Homo sapiens: one gene and its partners. The protein of the gene in region 3 interacts with the protein of the main gene of each other region in a pairwise test. Each region holds a gene or a part of one and is shown on either strand. Other genes may lie near its edges.

Region 1 (7,110 bases), on a different chromosome or scaffold from region 3:
GAAATTCCATCTCAAAAAAAAAAAAAAAAAAAAAAAATTTAGCCAGGCATGGTGCCATGTGCCTGTAATCCCAGCTACTTGGGAAGCTGAGGCAGAAGAGTTGCTTGAACCCGAGAGGCGGAGGTTGCAGTGAGCTGAGATTGTGCCACTGCACTCCAGCTTGGGCAACAAGAGCGAAACTCCATCTCAAAAACAAAAACAAAAACAAAAGAAAGAAAGAAACGTTTTAGGTGTAATTAAAAAATACCATGAAAGAAAAAAAAAAAGAAAGAAATTTTTAAAAAGAAAAAAAAATGCCATAGACTGGGTGGCTTAGAAAACAGTTTTTTGTTTTCTCTCTGAAAAGACCCTAAGAAAGAAAAAAAAAATCGCAATGTATTTTCTCATAGCTCTGTAGGTCAAGAAGCCCGAGATCAAGGTGTCAGTAGATTAGGTTTCTGGTGAGGCCTGTGTTACAGACTGCAGACAGCCACTTCCTTGCTGTTATCCTCAGGTGGCCTTTCCTCGTTTCAAGGGGGAGGTGTCCTCTCACTCTTCCTCATCTAATCCAATAATAAAGGGCCCACCCTCCTGACCTCATCTAGCCCTGGTACTTCTCAAAGGCCCATCTCCTATTCTTAGCACACTGGGAGTCAGGGCTTCGGTGTGTAGGGAGGGACACAAATGTTCAGTCCATAACATCCATTCGTGGATAAATTATATGTCTGAGATTTGCTTCAAAATAATATAAGACTGGGGAGAATGAGGGGTATAGAGAAGCAAGATTGGGCAGTTCACCTAATTGCTGTAGTTGGGTGAAAGGTTTGTAGGGTCTCTTTATAATATTCTGTCTACTTTGATACATATTGCACTTTTATAATAAAATATGTGAAATGTTACAGTTCTTCCATTTCCCTTATCCTTCTCTTTTTCTTTTTTCCATAGCACTTGTCACCTAACATTATTTGTCTATTGTCTATCTCTTCTTGACAGAATGTAAACTCTCAAAGGGTTGGGATCTTTGCTCTCTGACATAACCCAAGCCCCTTCAGCAGTAACTGGCATGTAATAGGTCCTCCGTAAATGTTTGCTCACTGATGAAAACAGCCCAACTCCTCCATACTCCACACTAGACAACCCAGGATCCCCAAAGGACAGAACAGACTACAGGAGAAGCAAAGACAGTGCTGGGTATCAAGTTCTCAGAATAGGAATTTAATTTTGGAATAAGACTATACTAAAAATTTCTAGTGTATAGCTTACTTACTCAATTCTTAGAATGCTAAAGTGACATTTTTATTTAATTATATGGCAAAGGCTTTCTCAGAAGCATAATTTTAGGGACAAACTCCCTGCTTCCATGTGAACAGATGGTGTCTGCCTTCCCTAAGTACTTGGTAAAGCAGGAGTCATCAGACATGCTAATATTGGTCCGAGCTGTGCTACTAAACAGTTACACTGATCATGGCCAGTCACAGCAAAACCAGCCCTCAGCTCCTCAACTTCAAAATGACTTCTGACGGCCCTTCTCATTAACCTGGATGTTTAGAGCTTGCTGACTGGTCTAGGTGAACTGACAGTGCCCACAAATGGCAAGCTACAGATTGAGTTAAAGTTACTATCCAAACAGGTGGTTGTCAGTTCCAAGGCTCTGCTAAAAATTTCAACCCTGAAATTGTTTTTTTTTGTTTTTTGTTTTTTGAGACAGGGTCTCACTCTGTCGCCCAGACTGGAGTGAAGTGGCACAAACATGGCTCACCGCAGCCTCAAATTCCTGGGCTCAAGCGATCCTCTGGCCTGTCTCCCAAGTAGCTAGGACTAGAAGCACGCACCACCATGCCCAGCTAACTCTGAAATGTATACAATCGCTTCAAACTGCTAACAGATCTCAGTTAAAAATAAGAAAAATGGGCCAGGCGCGGTGGCTCATGCCTGTAATCCAGCACTTTGAGAGGCCGAGGCGGGCAGATCACAAGGTCAGGAGATCGAGACCATCCTGGCTAACACGGTGAACTCCATCCTTACTAAAAATACAAAAAAATTAGCCAGGTGTGGTGGTGGGCGCCTGTAGTCCCAGCTACTCGGGAGGCTGAGGCAGGAGAATAGCGTGAACCCAGGAGGCGGAGTCGGAGCTTGCAGTAAGCCGAGATCACGCCACTGCACTCCAGCCTGGGCAATAGAGCGAGACTCTGTCTCAAAAAAAAAAAAAGAAAAGAAAAGAAAAATGTCCAAACATACAATGGAATGGTCCCTGGTCACTGTTAAAAAAAAAAAATTGCAAACAGGGGCCTAAAATAATATTCAGAAATTAAACACCATGTAACAAATGTCCAAAAAGCCACATAAGGGAGAGAGCACAGAAGAGGCTGGACTTTTCCTAAGAAGGGATCACCCCACCTTGTAACCACATCTAGAACCCAGAAGCCCAAATGTCAAGATAACATTCCCTCGGTCAGGAGTACACGAAGGACAAACCTCCAAAGACAGACGCAGCTGTCTAAAACCAAAGACGCTTGATGAATGCCGGCCACTGCGCGCTTGGTAGCTAACACAGACAGTGGTGCGGCAGGTGGCATGGTGCCCCACAACATCCTAACCCTCAAAACCTGTGAATGTCACCTTATTTGGGAAAGGGGTCTTTGTAGACTTAATTAAGTTCAGGAGCTCAAGATGTGATTATCCCAGATTATCCAGGCAGGCCCTATATATAGCTGGATTCTAGATATATTTCAAAGATAATGTCAGTTGTGAGAGAAAAAAGAAGTCATAAATGACTCCAAGGTTATCAATTTTTAATTTAAAAACAAATATTCTCTAAGGCCAAAATACTGTGACTATATTTGACATTAAGAGCAGATAGAGGAAAGATTTGAGGAAGAAAGAAGGTGAGACACAGGACAGGAAGCCACAGGAAGCTCTGAGGCAACCCACCACAGAGGCAGGCACTGAGGTGGGAATGTTTTGACTGTTTAAGACCCTGCAGCTGTCTGGGCACAGTGGCTTATGCCTGTAATCCCAGCACTTTGGGAGGCCAAAGAGGGCGGATTGCTTGAATCCAGGAGTTCAAAACGTGCCTGGGCAACATGGCGAAACCCCATCTCTACTGAAAATACAAAAAATTAACTGGGCATGGTGGCACACAAGCAGCTACTCGGGAGATTGAGGTGGGAGAATCACCTGACCCCAGGAGGTCAAGGCTGCAGTGAGCCGAGATCATGCCACTGCACTCCAGTCTGGGCGACACAGTGAGACCATGTCTTAAAAAAAAAAGACCCTGTAATCTTCTGCCGTTGCTGGTCTCTAACTCCAGATCTAAAGCCACCAGGTCTAGAGTGGAGCACGGGGGTGGGAGGGTCAGTACTTGGAGATCAGTGTGCAATACCTTTGGAGACCACACACTTACACACTAAGGCATGCGACTCCAGGGAAGACACTCTGTCAACTGGCAACAAACTTTCCTACGACAAAAAAATCCTTAAGTCAGTTATTTGTATTTCCATTAAAAGATAACCAACTCAGCCAGAGTGAGCCACACAATCACACTGTCAGTTGGCAGGCCTCTGGTGGAAGCACACAGCAAAAACTCTCTAAGGAAAGACTGGTTCATGTGTTATGCCCGACATACTTTTTTTTTTTTTTTTTTGAGACGGAGTCTCACGCCAGGCTGGAGTGCAGTGGCATGATCTCGGCTCACTGCAACCTCCGCCTCCCAGATTCAAGCAATTCTCCTGCCTCAACCTCCCGAGTAGCTGGGACTACAGACGCGAGCCACCACGCCCAGCTAATTTTTGTATTTTTAGTAGAGACGGGGTTTCACCATGTTGGCCAGGGTGGTCTCAATCTCTTGACCTCATGATCCACCCACCTTGGCCTCCCAAAGTGCTGGGATTATGGCCATGAGTCACTGCGCCCAGCCTTTATTTTTTTTTCTGAGACCAGGTCTTGCTCTGTCACCCAGGTTGCAGTGTGAGGTACAATCACAGATCACTGCAGCCTTGACGTCCCAGGTCCAAGTGATCCTCCCGCCTCGGCCTCCCAAGTAGCTGGGAGTACAAGCGCACACCACCACACCTGGCTAACTTTTTTATTTTCATTTTTGTAGAGATAGGAATTCCCTATGTTGCCCAAGCTGTATCATACTTGATTATTTCAGAGATTCATCAGCACTTAAGAAAAAAAGAAAAAAAAAAAGAAAATCAGACCTTTCCATTTCATTTGCATAAAGAACTTACTAGAAACTCTTCAGAAACACATCTTGTAGTAAAGTAGGTGTGTGAGCTGAAAAGAAAGGAAGCTTTTCAATTCTAAAGTATCAGTTCAAATCCACCCTGGAGTTGGGCTAATAACACTAACAGCACGGGTTCCCAAACTGTGTACCTAGGCTTCCCACACACTACGCAGAGAGGCACCAAGAGATATTTTAAATTTATGAGGGAAACAGCAATGCTTGTGGTGTAGGAACCCCACACAAGGTATTCACAGTGTCAACATCAGATCAGGGCTCCACTTCTTTCGATGACATCATTATCGTCGCAAAACAGGGTGGCTGCTCTGATAAAAAGCAAGTACCACCAAAAAGAAGAAGAAAAAAAAAAAACCAAAGGGAGAAGCAGCGTCCAATCCGACCTTCAGGTGAGAGGTGCCACAGAGCTCCCGCAGGGCCTGCCCCCCACGTAGCACACTGCTGCAATTAGGAAGAATGATGAAAATATTTTTTTCTTCCAACTTATATATATTTTTTTTCAAACAGCTCTTGTTAGGACATAATATTTAATAAATTACTGGAATCTAACTACTTAATAAATGGAATTTTTAAGTATTCCTTTTAGCCTAGAGATGCCATGAAAAAAATTACCGAGACACTAAAAGCATTGTGAACAGAGAAAATTGAGGAACCTCTCCTTAGTAACTTTTTTTGCACACTGACTATAATCCTGACACTCTCCTGAGTGCTTTACACACCCTTCTCAACCCGATGGGGTTGGTACTGTACCCGTTTCACAGCTAAGGGTCTGTGAAATTATGTAAGAACCGAGGTCATGCGTACAAGATGGAATGGTTTGTAACCATGCTCGGGTAGAAATGACATAGTAAGTTAAGCACATTTGTTGGTGCCTTTAGTCCCCGCCTCCAAATACATACTCTCTGCAACAACTGCGATTTCCTAAGAAGAATGTTTCTCCTACTTTTCAATCTTTGGTTCAACATTGCCTTGAGAATTCAATATGAAACAAAATCTGCATTTATAACATATTCACCCATTTAAACAGACATTTCAAGTGACTTTTCTGGTAGTAAAACTAGTGATGGTTAAATCGCAAGCACCACATTTTCAGGTTTAGTAGAAAATTTCAATGTGCAAATTTAAAAACTTTAACCTGGCTGGGCGCGGTGGCTCATGCCTATAATCCCAGCACTTTGGGAGGCTGAGGCGGGCAGATCACAAGGTCAGATCAAGACCATCCTGGCTGACACGGTGAAACCCCGTCTCTACTAAAAATACAAAAAATTAGCCAGGCGTGGTGGCGGGCGCCTGTAGTCCCAGCTACTCGGAAGGCTGAGGCAGGAGAATGGCGTGAACCCGGGAGGCGGAGCTTGCAGTTAGCCAAGATCACACCACTGCACTCCAGCCTGGGCAACAAAGCAAGACTCCGTCTCAAAAAATAAAAATTAAAATTAAAAAAATTTTAACCTACAGGGGAAAATCCCAAAGTCCAACCAGACACGAAGCTCTACATATCTGCTCATTTCTGTTGCCTGTTTTCCCCTTTAAAAGTTTCTAATATCAGACCTGGAACCCCAAATACAGAAACTCAGAAAAATGAAACAGGCAACAGATGTGACTAATGAGAACAGATCACCTAGAGGGAGGGTACTATTATTGTTCAGAGAAATTCAATTCCAAGCTAATAACAGGTATGTGCTATTGTAGGTATGAGGACAGTCAACAAAGAAAAGCCACAAATCACTGGAATTACATTAACTTTGTCACTAACTGAATGAGATGGCTGGAAAAGGAACGTGTCTTTCCTAATACACCCTTGGAACAGAAACCCAAGTCTATTTCAAAACAGAAAACTGACCCTGTGGCTGAAAAACAAATCTACGCTAAAATTTAAATTTAGACCAAATGGATCTGCTGGATTTGTTTCAGTTACGCCAGGCATTTTTCATGATTAATAAAATATACTACAAGTTTTCCTATTGCTATGATTCGGTCATTCATCACCCAACCCCGTCAAAGCATTAGTTCCACTAACTGTTCAGCTCCCATCCCTGCACATTTCACATACACTCTTCAGTATTTACAAGCTGTAACTAGTTCTGAGTTTAAGAAGGCCCCTACTGTGCTAGTCCCTCTTCACAGGAGCCCGTTAGGCAGGAGGTTTAATTATGGGCTAAAGTCTATTAAAACATTTAGGGCCAGGTGCGGGGGCTCACGCCTGTAATCCCAGCACTTTGGGAGGCCGAGGCGGGCAGGTCACCTGAGGTCAGGAGTTCTAGACCTGCCTGGCCAACAAGGTGAAACTGTGTCTCTATTAAAATACAAAAATTAGGTGGGCATGGTGGTGTACGCCTGTAATCCCAGCTACTTGGGAGGCTGAGGCAGGAGAATCGACTGAACCCGGGAGGCAGAAGTTGCAGTGAGCCGAGATCGCGCCACTGCACTCCAGCCTGGGCAAGAGAACAAGACTCTGTCTCAGACAGAAAAAAAAAAAAAAAATTTGGAGAGCTTCAAAATATTATTAAAATAATTCAGGCCAGGTGAGGTGGGTCATACCTGTAGTGCTGGCTACTTGGCAGGCTAAGGGAGGGGTCACTTGAGCCCAGCAAGGCTGCAGTCGGCTATGACCATGCCACTGCACTCTAGCCTAGGTGACAGAGCGAGACCCCATCTCTAAAAAAATAATAATAATAAAATGAAGTGAAATAATCAGCTAGGTTTTAAAGTAATAATCTATTCTAATTACCCTTAATCTTTGGGAACTTTTCATTCTTCTATCCCTACATATACACAGTTTTTAAATTCACCTGAACCAGTTACATTCTATATTCTTCCCAGAAAGGTCTAAGCAGAATGCATTTTCACTGAAGTAAAATATTATACATTCTATGGAAAAAAAATTCACA
Region 2 (7,110 bases), on a different chromosome or scaffold from region 3:
CTTTGGCCTCCTAAAGTGCTGGGATTACAGGCATGAGCCACCGTGTCTTGAGGGGTTTGTTTCTATTAAAAGACTTGGTGTCAGGGAGGAGCACAAAGCTTTAACCCATTGAACCTCTGACAGTTAAGATGGTGTTGGGTTAGGTTACATCTGGTTACTATCCTGGGAAAATCACTTCTATAGAGATGGCCTTCCAAGTGGTTTTAAAATGTATCTTTCTGTCTGGGCGCGGTGGCTCACGCCTGTAATCCCTGCACTTTGGGAGGCCAAGGCAGGTGGATTGCTTGAGGTCAGGAGTTTGAGACCAGCATGGCCAACATTTTGTATTTTTGTATTTTCTCTACTAAAAATACAAAAATTAACCAGGCATGGTGGTGGGTGCTTATAATTCCAGCTACTTAGGAACCTGAGGCAGGAGAATCACTTGAACCCTGTAGATGGAGGTTGCAGTGAGCCGAGATGGCCCCACTGTACTGCAGCCTGGATGACAGAGCGAGACTCCATCTCAAAATAAATTAAAAAAATGTATCCTTCTATTGAAGTTTTTAGGTTAATCATGTATATGTTGACTAAATTATGAATTAACTTGTTTATCAAAAAAAAAGTAAAAAGTAAAGTAAGTAAAAGTAAAGTAAAATAAATAAAATCAACCTTATAATTCACTTTTTCTTAAACTGTTTCAGGGAAAAAAGTATAAATGTTTACATTAATATTTTTAACCAATCTTGTAAAACAATTTCTGAATACTAACATCCTAGCATTCTAAAAGTATTTAAAACTATTGTTTTTTAAAATAGGAAAACGGACGATGTATTACTAAGCTGGAAAACATGGGGTTTCGAGTGGGACAAGGATTGATAGAAAGGTGAGCAGGTTGGATTTGAAAATTTTCTTGCAGGTAGGTTATAAACAAAGGTGATCTATTTCAAAAGATTGCATAAAACTTGGGATATTTTAATTTTAATTCCTGAATGTTATTCTCTTTACTTCAAAAATTAAAATTTCTTTTTAGATCCAATGCCATTTAACTCATTTATTCAAATTTTATTTTAATGTTTAAAGAAAATATATATTTTATATATTTTAGACTTTCTTCCTGAAGCTATTTTAGACTTTATTCCTGAAGCTATTGAAGCAACTATCTAAAATCTTACTGCATTTTCAACTTAAGATCTGCTAGGTTCTTTAACCTGCATAGAATTTTTAAGTACATAGGTTTGAAATAACTATAGTCTATGTTTATGCGTGTAATTATCTTTGAACTTATAAATCAGTTCTTTTTAGTATTTCTTTCTCACTACCTGAATAGTTAAACTCGGAGTATATTTTATATAACAATGTCATGATAATGCTCAGCTCTTTGTTCTTTTGTGGTTTTTTGATGTGCTAGAATGCATTGCACCTGAAATTTTGGCTATAATGTTAGACTAATTTGAGGCCTCATAATTTATATAACATAATGTGAATCCATTGAGATAGGATCATGTTACCTGGTGCTTATGACTTTATTAGTGTTAATAAATGTTCAGCCAGGTGTGGTGGCTCATGCCTGTAATCCCAGCACTTTGTGAGGCCAAGGTGGGAGAATCTCTTGAGCTCAGGAGTTTGAGACCAGCCAGGGTAACAAAGTGGAACCCTGTCTCTACAAAGATATACAGATTAGCTGAGCATGGTGACATGTGCCTGTGGTCTCAGCTGCTAGGGAGGCTGAGGTGGGAGGATAGCTTGAGCCTGGGAGGGAGGTAGACGTTGCAATGAGCCGAGATTATGCTATTGCACTCTAACCTGGGCGACAGAGCCAGAATCTGTCTCAAAAAAAAAATTAAAATTAAAAAACCCAATAAATGTTCAGTGCTGTTCTGGCATTTGGAAATTAGTTAATAATTAGTCCCTCTTGCTTTTTTTGGAGGAGAAATACTGTATTACTTCTAGTTGATCTTTTTAGGTTTACAAAAGATACTGCAAGGTTCAAGGATGAGTTAGATATCATGAAGTTCATTTGTAAAGATTTTTGGACTACGGTATTCAAGAAACAAATCGACAATCTAAGGACAAATCATCAGGTAATTAAATTAATTAAGGCCTATATTTTAAAGTCCTTTAACTTGATATAAATATCGTATTTTAGTGACTTATTTAAAACCTAAAATAATTTCTGGTTAACTTTGGAATATGTTTATGTTATTAATGAGTTATTAGTTTTTTTCTTCTAATAGTGTGAACTGAGTAAAGACAAAGGGACAGTTATCAGTAATGATAGCTGTTCCTTTCACCCAATTATATGCTATGTTAAGTTTTTTAAAGTAGCATAAGTCAGGATGAGAATAGCTTTTACTATTTGGTTCCTTAGTTACTGTTAATTAGTGGTAATAATATGCAGAACCACAAATATATCACCTTTATGTCTTTAGAGTCATTTCTTTTTTTTGAAGAAGAAGAATTTGGATTATTTTAATTATTTTTATATACAGAAAACTCAACAGTGTATGTTTAACCCAGTTTGGTGTCAAGTTCTTTAGCCTTTGCCTTTTCCTGCTTGACAATTCAAGCCACAGACTTGAGACCCAGGACATTGCCTCCCCAGTGACAGTGGATTTCGTTTTGTCTGTCGTAATTGGTTCTGATAGCTTCCACCAGCTGAACCTAAGCTCCATTGTCCTCTGAGTTAATCTGTGTAAAGGCGACAGTGGTGCGGGTCTTCTTGTGGATTAGACATCCCAGTCTTGCCTTCCCCTTGATAATGCGGTAAGGGACCCCCATTTTATGACACAAGGCAGGCAGGAAGACAGCCACCTCGATGGGATCCACATAGTGTGCAGTCACCACCAGCTGAGCCTTCTTGTTCTCCTCCAAGGTGGAGATGGTGTTAACTCCTGCTCGGAGGACAAGTGGTCTCTTAGTGGGGACATCCCCTTTGCCTGCAGCTTTCTTTTCAGCCCGGGCCAATAGCCTCTGCTTATTTTCTTGCTTTGTCTTTGGTCTGTACTTGTGGGCCAGCTTAAGCAGCTAAGTAGCTATTTGGCGGTGCAGGGCCTGGGTGAACTGGTTAATTGTAGGAGGCACTTTCAGCTGCTTACAGAGGATGGCTTTGTGCCACTGCAACCTGATATAGCGGGGCCATTTCACAAAGTGAGTGAGGTCCATATTGGGTGGATGTCCTGTCCAATGCCAGAATTCTTAGGCCTTTTCTCAAACAGGGGATTCACCACTTTCTTTCTTTCTTTTTTTTTTTTTTTTTTTTGAGATGGAGTCTTGCTGTGTTGCCCAGGCTAGAGTGCAATGGTGCGATCTCGGCTCACCACAACCTCCGCCTCCTGGGTTCAAGCCATTCTGCCTCAGGCTCCCAGGTAGCTGGGACTACAGGCATGTGCCACCACTCCGGCTAATTTTTGTATTTTTAGTAGAGGTGGGGTTTCACCATGCTGGCCAGGCTGGTCTCGAACTCCTGACCTCAAGTGATCCGCTTGTCTCGGCCTCCCAATGTGCTGGGAGTACAGACGTGAGCCACCACGCCCAACCAGGATTCACCACTTTCTTGGCCTCCTGTTTCTTCATGACACCAAGGGCCAGAGCCACCTCCTTCCTCTTGGCCTTTCCTTTTGGCATCTTGGGTGGCAGGAAGAGATTCTTTATAGTCATTTCTAAAGTCTAATTTATAGAGCATTTTACTCTTAAATAACTCCTGGATTATTACTGCTGTCATATTTTCTACTCTTAAAAGATTTTCTTACTACAAAATTAATAGATTACATAGAAAACTATGTATTTATTAAAATTTTAAAAGGGAGACAGAGTCTCGCTTTGTTGCCCAGACTAGTCTTGAGCTCCTGGACTCAAGTAATTCTTTGGCCTCAGCCTCTTGCATAGCTGGGATTATAGGCATGCACCACCACTCCCAGCTTCATTAGATTTTATTTTATGAACTTCAAGGAAATACTTAGAGTAGATTTGGAATTTTGATTAAGTAAAAAATTAAATGTATCTGGTACTCTCAATAGGATAATTCATTTATTTATTTATTTTTAATTAGAGACAGTGTCTCACTATGTTTTCCAGACTGGTCTCAAACTCTTGGGCTCAATGGATCCTCCCGCCTTGGCCTCCCAGAGTTCTGGGATTACAGGTGTGAGCCACTGTGCCTGGCCTGGAATTCATTTTGTACCAACTTTAGCTTGGAATTACTGGAAATGCTAATAGGAAGAAATGACTATGATTTTTTTACTCTCTAGACATGATTTACTAATATATATCAGCTGGCTGGACATGGTGGCTCATGCTTAGAATTGCAGCATTTTGGGAGGCTGAGGCAGAAGGATTGCTTGAGCTCAGGAGTTGGAGACCAGCCTGAGCAACATACTTAGAACCTATTTCTACAAAAAACTTGAAAAAAATTTCACCAGGCATATTGGTATGTGCCTGAGGTTTCAGCTACATGGGAGGAGTTCAAGGATACAGTGAAATACTACACTTTTGCCTGGATAACAGCAAAATTCTGTCTCTTAAAAAAATAAAGCTGGGCGCGGTGGCTCACCCCTGTAATCCCAGCACTTTGGGAGGCCGAGGTGGGCAGATCACCTGAGGTCAGGAGTTCGAGACCAGCCTGGCCAACGTGGTGAAACCCTGTCTCTACTAAAAATACAAAAATTAGCCAGGCATATTGGCGCACGCTTATAGTCCCAGCCACTCAGGAGGCTGAGGAAGGAGAATTGCTTGAACCCGGGAGGCAGAGGTTGCAGTGAGCCTAGATCACACCACTGCACTCCAGCCTGGGCGACAGAGCAAGACTCTGTCTCAAATAAACAAATAAATCCGGGTGCGGTGGCTCACGCCTATAATCCCAGCACTTCAGGAGGCCAAGGCGGGTGGATCACCTGAGGTTGGGAGTTCAAGACCAGCCCTGCCAACATGGAGAAACCCCGTCTCTACTAAAAATACAAAATTAGCTGGGCGTAGTGGCGCATGCCTGTAATCCCAGCTACTTGGGAGGCTGAGGCAGGAGAATCACTTGAACCCAGGAGGCGGAGGTTGTGGTGAGCTGAGATCGAGCCATTGCACTCCAGCCTGGGCAACAAGAGTGAAACTCTGTCTCAAAAAAATAAATAAATAAAAATAAAAATTAGGTCGGGTGTGGTGATCATACATGTAATTTCAGCACTTTGGGAGGCTGAGGCAGGAGGATTACTTGAGCCCTGGAGTTCCAGACCAGCCTAGGCAACATAGGGAGACCCCCTTTCTACAAAAAATTAATAAAACTAGCCGGGTGTGGTGGCATGTGTCTGTGGTCCCAGCTACTCGGAAGGCTGAGGCAAGAGAATTGCTAAACACCCAGGTGTTTGAGGGTGCAGTGAGCTGTGATTGCACCACCACACTCCAGCCTAGACAACAGAGTGAGAGCTCATGTCTAAATAAATAACTATACAAACAAACAGCTTATTTCATGTGGACATGTATTAATGATTCCATCGTACTAGACTATGAGTTTTTAAGGATAGGGACTATGTCTCAGACAGTGTTTTTATCTTCAGTGTATAAAACCGTTCGGTATACATTAGTGTTGTGAAAATACTGAACTCGCAACTCTTCAGCTTGAACATTGCAAAACTCCTTCATTTAAACAAAATTTGACCAGGCTGGGCACGTGGGCTTATGCCTGTAATCCCAGCACTTCGGGAGGTCAAGGTGGGCAGATTGCTTGAGCCCAGGAGTTTGAGACCAGCCTGGGCAACATGGCGAAACCCCATCTGTACAAGAAATATAAAAATTAGCAGGGCATGGTGATGCACGCCTGTAGTCCCAGCTACTTGGGAGCCTGCGGTGGGAGGATTGATTGAGTCTGGGAGTTGGAGGCTGCAGTGAGGCGTAATTGTGCCACTGCATTCTACCCTGGGCGACAGAGGAGACCCCGTCTCAAAGAACAGAAAAAGAAAACTTGGCCAATGGGAAGGAGACTTTTAATAACTTTAAAAAACACTTAAATTGTTTCATAAGAATAAAATAATTTTAAGGACTGCTAGGTACATTGACTTTGGATTTTTTTTCTATTTTTGGAACAGGGCATCTATGTACTTCAGGACAACAAATTTCGCCTGCTTACTCAGATGTCTGCAGGAAAACAGTATTTAGAACATGCATCTAAGGTATTTAATGGAATAGAAGTTGGGGTTTTTGTTAATAGTAGGACTACAGGGAAAAGTACAGTGCTAATCATAACAAACTATTGAATTAAAAATATGTTTTAAGGTGTTCTTTTTTGTTTAAAGAGTTTTCTATGAAATGAGAGACATGTTACAATAACACTAAACTGTAGCTAAATAGTCATAGAGTGACCAATTAAAGAAACACTGGCCGGGCGCTATGGCTCACGCCTGTAATCCCAGCACTTTGGGAGGCCAAGGCAGGTGGATTACCTGAGGTCAAGAGTTCAAGACCAGCTTGGCCAGCATGGGGAAACCCTTTCTCTACTAAAAATATGAAAAATAGCTGGACGTTCTGGCGAGCGCCTGCAATCCCAGCTATTCGGGAGGCTGAGGCAGGAGAATCACTTGAACCCGGGAGGCAGAAGTTGCAGTGAGCTGAGATCGTGCTATCATTGCACTCCAGCCTGGGGTATAAGAGCAAAACTCCATCTCAAAAAAAAAAAAAAAGAAAAAAAAGAAACACTATAACTAAATGACAGTGAAATGTAGATGTATGGTAGATCACTTTTTTTTTTTTTTTAAGACAAGGTCTTGCTCTGTCATCTAGGCTGGAGTGTAGTGGTACAATCATGGCCTATCTTGACCTTGACCCCCCCGGGCTCAAGTGATCCTCCCACTTCAGTCACCCAAGGAGGTAGGACTGCAGGTGTGGGCCACCATGCCTGGCTAATTTTTAAAAAAATTTTTTAGAGATGGGATCCCACGATGTTGCCCAGGCTCGTCTTGAACTCCTGGGCTCAAGTGATCACCTCACCTCGGCCTCCCAGTGTGTTGGGATTACAGGTGTGAGCCACTGCATCCGGCCTGATTGCCTATTTTCTATATTTTTGGGGTATCCAGGCTCTAATTACATTTTTATGGTTAATGTGTATATTTTCTCTCTTTTTTTTTTTTTTCGGACAGAGTGTGAGAC
Region 3 (7,110 bases):
ATGTACAAATATTAAATACCATGGCCTTACCCCTGCGCCCAGGGTACACGTGCGGGTAGTACTCGTAATAAAGATCTGGCTGATCAAGATTTCCGAAGGGTTCAAATTCCATCTCAGCATTCTGGAAAAGGCCCAACTTCACTAGTAGTGCCAGCCTGACAAACCAGAGCTAAAAACAAAATACAATGGAAACAATAGGTTATCTACATATATCCAGTTCAGAATTTGCTATTCCTTATGAGTTGGTGTTAGAGGTTAATTTCTCATATATTAAAATAAGGGCTAACCTAACTTTCTATCTTTGCATATTTACACAATCGTATTTAAAAAATTACTCTTGAAGCTGGGCATGATGCCTCATGCCTGCAGTTCCAGCTACTCAGGAGGCTGAGGTGGGAAGATTGCTTGAGCCCAGGAGTCTGAGTCCAGCCTGGGCAACATAGCGAGACCCTGTCTCTAAGAAGAAATTACTATTGAGCTTAATAACAATGTGAATGATTTTACATAATTGTTTACTCAATAAGTAAACAGTGCTTACTGAGCAGGTCTGTGTGCAAAGCACTGTGCTAGGTGTCATGAAAATGAAAAGGCACCAAAGGAATGCGCCACCTAGTGGAGGGCGGGGGAATGACGGCGGGAACGGGAGCAGGAAGGAGAGGAAGCGCAGGGATGGGTTGTGTTTGAGGGCAGCTCTCAGGGCTGCAGAATTTCAAGGGGCCACAGGCTAAGGAAGGGTCTGCTGGTTCAGGGAACGTAAGGACAAAGGTACAGAGTGGACAAAACACAACATACGAGAGAGCACAGTGTGCTCTCAGGGGTACATTCAGGAAAATGGTGGGAATTTGCATTAGACAGCTGCAGAGCCAGAGACTTAGGATTAAAAGGGTACCTTAGAAATGACCTAATTGGATCTGACTTTACTGATGAGAAGAATGAATTTCACTAAGTGTCCGCTGAAGGATGAACGGATAAAGGAACGTGGCATGACGCACAGTGGAATACCACTCAGCTTTCATGGAGGAAATCCCGTCGTTTGTGCTGTGGATGAGCCTAGGGGACATGACGTTAGACAAACAAGCCAGGCACAGAAAGACAAACACCGTGTGACCTCACTTACACATGGAATCTGAAAACACTGAACTCACAGAAGCAGAGTAGATGGCGGGTGCCGGGGCTGGGGGTGGGGAGGAGGGCCGGGCAGGGGAGGTTTGAGAGATGTTAGTCAAAGGAAACAAAATCCAGTGACGCAAGGAATAAGCTCAAGAGATCTATTGTAGACGTGGTGACACAGTTACAATGTATACTAAAAATTGCTAAGACAGATTTTCAGTGTTCTCATTACACACACACACACACACACACACACACACAAAGGCATGCGAGGCAATGCATGCGATTTAGCTTGATTTAACCATTCCATAGTGTACACATAGCCTGTCATGGTCTGAGGGTTTGCATACAACACGAGAAGATGAAATTTCACATGGTAGCCAATGGGAAACTATCCAGCTCTTGACTAGCTCCGTTTCAGACCTAGTTGGAAAGGAGGGTGGTTCACCCTCTTTAGGCAGCCTGGTGGTTCCTGGCTCTAGGGAGGTCACCATATTGGTGTTGAGCTAGTGCCAACACCTGATCAACAAAGTGCACTACGGCCCAGAAGCCCCAGGCCCAAGTGATCTTCCTGCCTCAGTCTCCCCAGTAGCTGGGACTACAGTCAATGCGCCACTGCGCCGGGCACAGTTTTCCAGCAGGAAAGTGAGATGATCAAAAGTGTGCTTTTTTGGAGGTAGTTTATGGAATGAATGTGAATAAAGAAACTTGAACTAAGTTCATAAAAGAGGCCAAAGCAACACTGCAATGAGAGCTCGAACTGTGGGTGGTGGTGGGTTGGAGAGAAATGATAGGAAAACAGCCTAAGATTTGGCAAACCAATGGATGGAGAGGTGATGGGGGAAAGTACATTTAAAGCTAGAGCGGCTCTTCTTGTCGGCTCTTGGGGGAAGAGAAAGAAGGAGAAGGAGCCTGCTGGAAATAGCTAAGCTGTCAGGGCTCCCCAGAGCTGCTCCTTTCAAAAGCTCATCACAGTTCTGAAGGATCTGGTGATCTGTTTAGTCCCGGGGGATTCCCATGTAAGCTAGAAGAACAGTTAAAAAACTCCCCAGGGAAAGGTAAGAATGTATCAACGTTTGCAGCTGTTCCTTCTTCTCAGATGAGTTTCCTTTTGTTCACAAGTCTATTTTGTGCATTCCCTTTTCTTTTTTCTTTTTTTTTAAATTTCAGAGCAAGTGATATACCACGAGGAGCAAATGGCACATGGACCCTCCGTCCTTGGGGTGGACAGAACCAACTGCTCCTGTCACTGTTTCCTACCGGGCCCAGACACGCCCCAGAGCCCCGCACAGGCCAGTTGCTACTGCCAGTCGTGAGGCGAACCCACCTGCTGACCCAAAGCCATGCCGGTTCCACCATGAGACTGAGTGTGGGCACTTGTGAGCGTGCTTCTGGGGCGCACAGGCATCCTGACGGGCCGAAGTGAGAATTCCAGTGCCCCAGTATAGTATATACAATATAATTAGGAGAGAAAGAAGCAGGATATGAAAACATACTTTTTGTTATTGGCATGAAAGGCCATGGTCCTGTCCATGTCCCCAGACTGTGATAAGCCAGGTTAAACTCCAGCACCTGAAAGGTGTTCTCACCTGCAGTGAATCTGTCGTGTGGCTGGTGAGCAGCCCGCTCTTGCCGTAGCCCTGGCCGTGGGCTGTGAGGAGACGTCCGCACAGGTCCACTGCTGCCCTCCAGTTTCTGCAGCTCTGCAAGACACGGCAGAACATGTGACCAAACACACATGCAAGGCATGGTGGAATCCATGACCCAAACGCATAGCCACTGGCCACAGCTGCTCACCTTGCTGGAAGCAGCGCCAGCCAGCCGTTAGTAATGGTGACAACGTCAGTGTGCTGACGGCACGGAGGGGCATGCCATTTGTCAACGCTGCACGTGTAATTAGGCAATAAGAGAGCCAAGCGTGAGGTACAGTTCAAGCCGATCAAATCATAAAAACATTACAATTCAACAACCGATAGAACATCGGGAAGAGGCTTTTTATTGGAAAGCTCCGCACATCTCTCAATCTATATGACTGGTTTCCTTTTTAGCAAGATTATCTTAAGATTTCTGTCAATTTAAAATCAATAAGGAAATTTTATGCTATGTGTTGGACATATTTATTTGTATCTGTAAGATTTGCATATGACTCTAAAATAACTGGCTTTATATGTTCATAATTTTAATTTATCAATATGAAAAAATCAATGAACTGGGTGAACACAACATGTTCCAGGCCCGTGTGGCAATGCACAGTATACTTTCACATCACTTAACGTTACGGCTTCAACATGGAAAGGCTGGCTGGTACTGACACACTGGCTGATTCGTACAGACTCTTGTGTTTATCTTTGCCCTTGTGCAATACAGAAAGGACAGCCATTAGGCAAATGAATGGGAAAATAAGATCAGAATGTTTAAACCTTTTAAGAAGCTAAAAGTGGATGCTCACTCTGTCTTTTCTCAATGTAACGGGCACTATCTTTGAATACGGTAGATGTCCTCATTTCTGCAGCCAGTCAATAAACATGCTTTAAGTACCTCCTGCCTGACAGAGACTGCAAGGCTGGCGGGGAGGTTAGTGAACGAGCACTCATTAGTGGTATGATCTAGCAAGGGAGACAGACAATTAAACAATATGTTTCTCAAGAATTAGCTAAATGATTTTGTGTGCATGCCAAGCGCTTCTCTGACAAGAAGTTTAGGAGTTTACATATTTTAAAAACGTGTGGTAGAGCCTGCCACACACTTCTTCTGTATACTAACTCACACACGCACTACTCCCTTTCCACGCCTCCTGCACTCCACGCCGGGACACAGAGAACTCAGGACCTGCTCATGAAACGCCTAGGAGGGCAATGAGTCTCAGCTTTGCACTACAGTTGTTCTGCAGTCCTTTATTTGGGCTTCCTCAGGCAGGAGCTAACGACCTGCTCCAATTCCAGCCACAGCGGCGGTGTGGGGGGCTGTGTTGAAGGCAGGAGAGTGGGGCTTGTGTCTTCCGGGGTTCTGACATGTGGCCTCACACTCACACTGCAGGCTCAGCAATGGCTGAGTTTACAGAGCTGAGGTCATCTGTCCCACCTCACAGATGTGACAATTAAAGAAGATACATGAAAGTGCTGAGCACAGTGCCAGGCAGGAGGCAGGCATTAAAAATGTGAACGATGCTGTTAAAAATTCCCAAACTGTTTCTTCATCAATCCAGAGTCAGCGTGTGCGTGCCTAGTGAAACTCTATGTGTAAGGAAAGGAACGGGTGCTGGGCCTTGAGCTTCAGACAGGCCAGGCTCTACGCCTGAGTAGCCGTGTGACCTGCTGCAAGCCACCAGCCGTCCCTGGGCTGCAGGCATCTCAGTTTCCTCCAGGTCTTCTGAGGGGTTGATAGTTGTTTTTTTTTTAAATGCTGAACATCCTACTGTCCACATTACCAGTGTGTTTACCCACTGACCTATCGAAGGACCCCTTGGTTGCCTCTAGTTTTTGGCAACTATGGATAAAGCTGGTATCAACATCTTTGGGCAGATTCTTGTGTGGATATAAGCATTCGGCATAACTGGGTGAAATATCCAGGAGCGTAATGCAGTAACTGGATTGCTGGGTTGTACCTAAGAGTATGTTTAGTGTTGTAGGAGGCCGCCAAGCTGTCTTCCTAAGTGGCCGTGCCATCTTGCCTTCCCTAGCAGTGAGGGGTCCCACGGCTGCACGTCCCGTGGCACTTGGTGTTGTCCATGCTATTTTTCAGCCACTCTAACTGGCATGCGTTTCACTCTCAGGTGAACTTTCCACCGTTCTCTCATGGAGTTTTTCCTTTCACTGTACCTGCCACAGCCTGACGGTGAGTACTGGCCTCCACGGCACCCACCAGCGAGCTGCAAATATTAGCAGGGCAACTCAAATGAGATTTCTTAAACTCTATCTTGTAGATTTTTTTTTTTTTTTTTTGGAAATGAGGACACCAGAGCGTACACAGTGCAGTTGGAGTCTGTGGTTTTCTTCACTAGCTGGTGTGCGGCCACTGGACCAAGTCAGAGAACCACTGATCGACGGTGAAGATGAGATCGGTGCCACGTTCCCCTAAACTGTCCAGACTACAGCAAGTAATACAGGATTTCTGTGTTCTGGTTGACAGTTCAGAAGTATTTTTAGATTGGTTACGATAATTTACTAAAACGATCTCCAAATGCCTTCTCTAGTCTAAATTCAATGCAATAATCACTTTATATAATACAAATGGCTCTGTATATTCTCTTTGAATTGCAAATGTGAAAGAGTGAGAGGGAAAGAGATTGTGCCAAGTCTGAACCAGTTCTATATATGCATCTAGGCAGATTCTGTATCCAGGGGCAACTAATAACTGCTCCCTTCCTGGTTCCCTAGGCCTAAGGCTCTGGCCTTTCCTGCTAGAAAGGCTGGGGCCCTCTTCCCTCAGGACATGACCTACAGTGAGGACAGGCAGGAGTTAATCAGGGAAGGGGAGGGGGCGGAGACCCTAGAAGAGGACAGAATGTGTGCAAAACAAGGCGAGAGCAGGCATGGGGGGCACAGGGAGCAGAGGGCAGGGTGCAGGGCCCGAGGGGATGCAGTAAGGACCAGCGGGCCGGAGGGAGGCGGTGGAGGAGGGGCCGAGCAGGTGTGGATGAGGAGAGGCTGGGGAAGCAGGTGAGGATGGGGTGGCACAGGAGGTGAGGCAGAGGAGGGTCGGGTGTGCTGGCCTTTGCAGGCTTCCAAGAGCACAGGCCACAGCAGTGTCGTGTCATCACATTTGAAGGCCCCTGTCTCCCTGCACTGATGGGGTGAACTTAAGGCGTCCGTGTAGATGTGAGTAAAGCTATGAGGATGTTCCAGCAGCTGGGCCTGGTGCTGGCAATCTGTGCACATCCTTTGGACGCCCCCCACCCCCTACTGCCTGAGTTGGTAGGCAGAGCTCACAGGAACCCAGAGCCCAGCCTCGTGTGCACCTGCACGGTGATAAGGTTCTGTGCTACCATGGAAGAGCTGGGCATTCACAGCAGAGCTGAGGAGCTGGACAGATACTGTATGGCCAGGAAGTCTACAATGTTTATTCTATGGTCTTTTACAGAAAACGCTGGCGGATCCCAGGTCTAGGCCCCTCGTGGCTCAGTAGTTCATTTCTGTTGACTTCAAGGAGGACTGTGGGCTGACTTCAGCCCGCGAGTGGCTTGCGTCTGATACCTGAGGACGAGGCACAGGAATGGAGATGCTCCTGTAGTCACGTGACAGAGAACTTTATGTGTATGGCATGCAGTGATAACAAAGCAGGGGCCTGCATTTGGCATGTTTTCCATTTTATTCTTTCATGACTGATTATTGTGAATTAGTTATTATTTATATTGATGGTGCAGAGTGGCAGAAGCAGGCGAGTATTTGTAGAGATATGGTTTTCCCATGTTGCCCAGGCTTGTCTTGAACTTCTGGGCTGAAGTGATCTACTCACCTCAGCCTCCCAGAGTGCTGGGATTATGGGATTACAGGCATTAGCCACTGTGCCTGCCACTATGACAATGTTTTTTTTTTTTTTTTTTTTTGAGACAGAGTCTCTATTGCCCAGGCTGGAGTGCGGTGGCACGATCTCGACTCGCTGCAATCTCCGCCTCCTGGGTTCAAGTGATTCTCTTGCCTCAACCTCCTGAGTAGCTGGGACTACAGGCGCCCGCCACCACGCCCGGCTAAAGTTTGTATTTTTAGTAGAGATGGGGTTTCGCCATGTTGGCCAGGCTGGTCTCGAGCTCCTGACCTCCGGTGATCTGCCTGCCTCGGCCTCCCAAAGTGCTGAGATTACAGGCGTGAGCCATCACGCCCGGCCAATGACCATTTTTAAAAATGAGAAACTTAAGGTTTTAATTCTCGTGGAAAGAAGAACAAAGAAGTTCGATGAGTAAATGTTGGCGGAATCTGCATTTCCTCATTCATTCACTCAGTGGCCATTTACTGACTGCCTGCTGTGAACCAGGCACTGTGCTAGGCTCGGGGGGACACAAGG

What was found.
Region 1: the proteins of TRAPPC12 (region 3) and TRAPPC10 interact in a two-hybrid assay, tested with the Homo sapiens proteins (one study listed by BioGRID).
Region 2: the proteins of TRAPPC12 (region 3) and TRAPPC6B interact in a two-hybrid assay, tested with the Homo sapiens proteins (one study listed by BioGRID).

What each region holds. Positions count from the first base shown.
Region 1 is NC_000021.9:44,015,204-44,022,313, reverse strand, and holds part of TRAPPC10 (trafficking protein particle complex subunit 10), read right to left. Parts: intron 1-7,110. UniProt on the Homo sapiens protein: Specific subunit of the TRAPP (transport protein particle) II complex, a highly conserved vesicle tethering complex that functions in late Golgi trafficking as a membrane tether.
Region 2 is NC_000014.9:39,153,238-39,160,347, reverse strand, and holds part of TRAPPC6B (trafficking protein particle complex subunit 6B), read left to right. Parts: intron 1-797; coding exon 798-865; intron 866-1,945; coding exon 1,946-2,063; intron 2,064-2,431; exon of another isoform or gene 2,432-3,226; intron 3,227-6,053; coding exon 6,054-6,137; intron 6,138-7,110. UniProt on the Homo sapiens protein: Component of a transport protein particle (TRAPP) complex that may function in specific stages of inter-organelle traffic.
Region 3 is NC_000002.12:3,417,584-3,424,693, reverse strand, and holds part of TRAPPC12 (trafficking protein particle complex subunit 12), read right to left. Parts: intron 2,995-7,110; exon of another isoform or gene 2,908-2,994; intron 2,814-2,907; coding exon 2,700-2,813; intron 170-2,699; coding exon 31-169; intron 1-30. UniProt on the Homo sapiens protein: Component of the TRAPP complex, which is involved in endoplasmic reticulum to Golgi apparatus trafficking at a very early stage.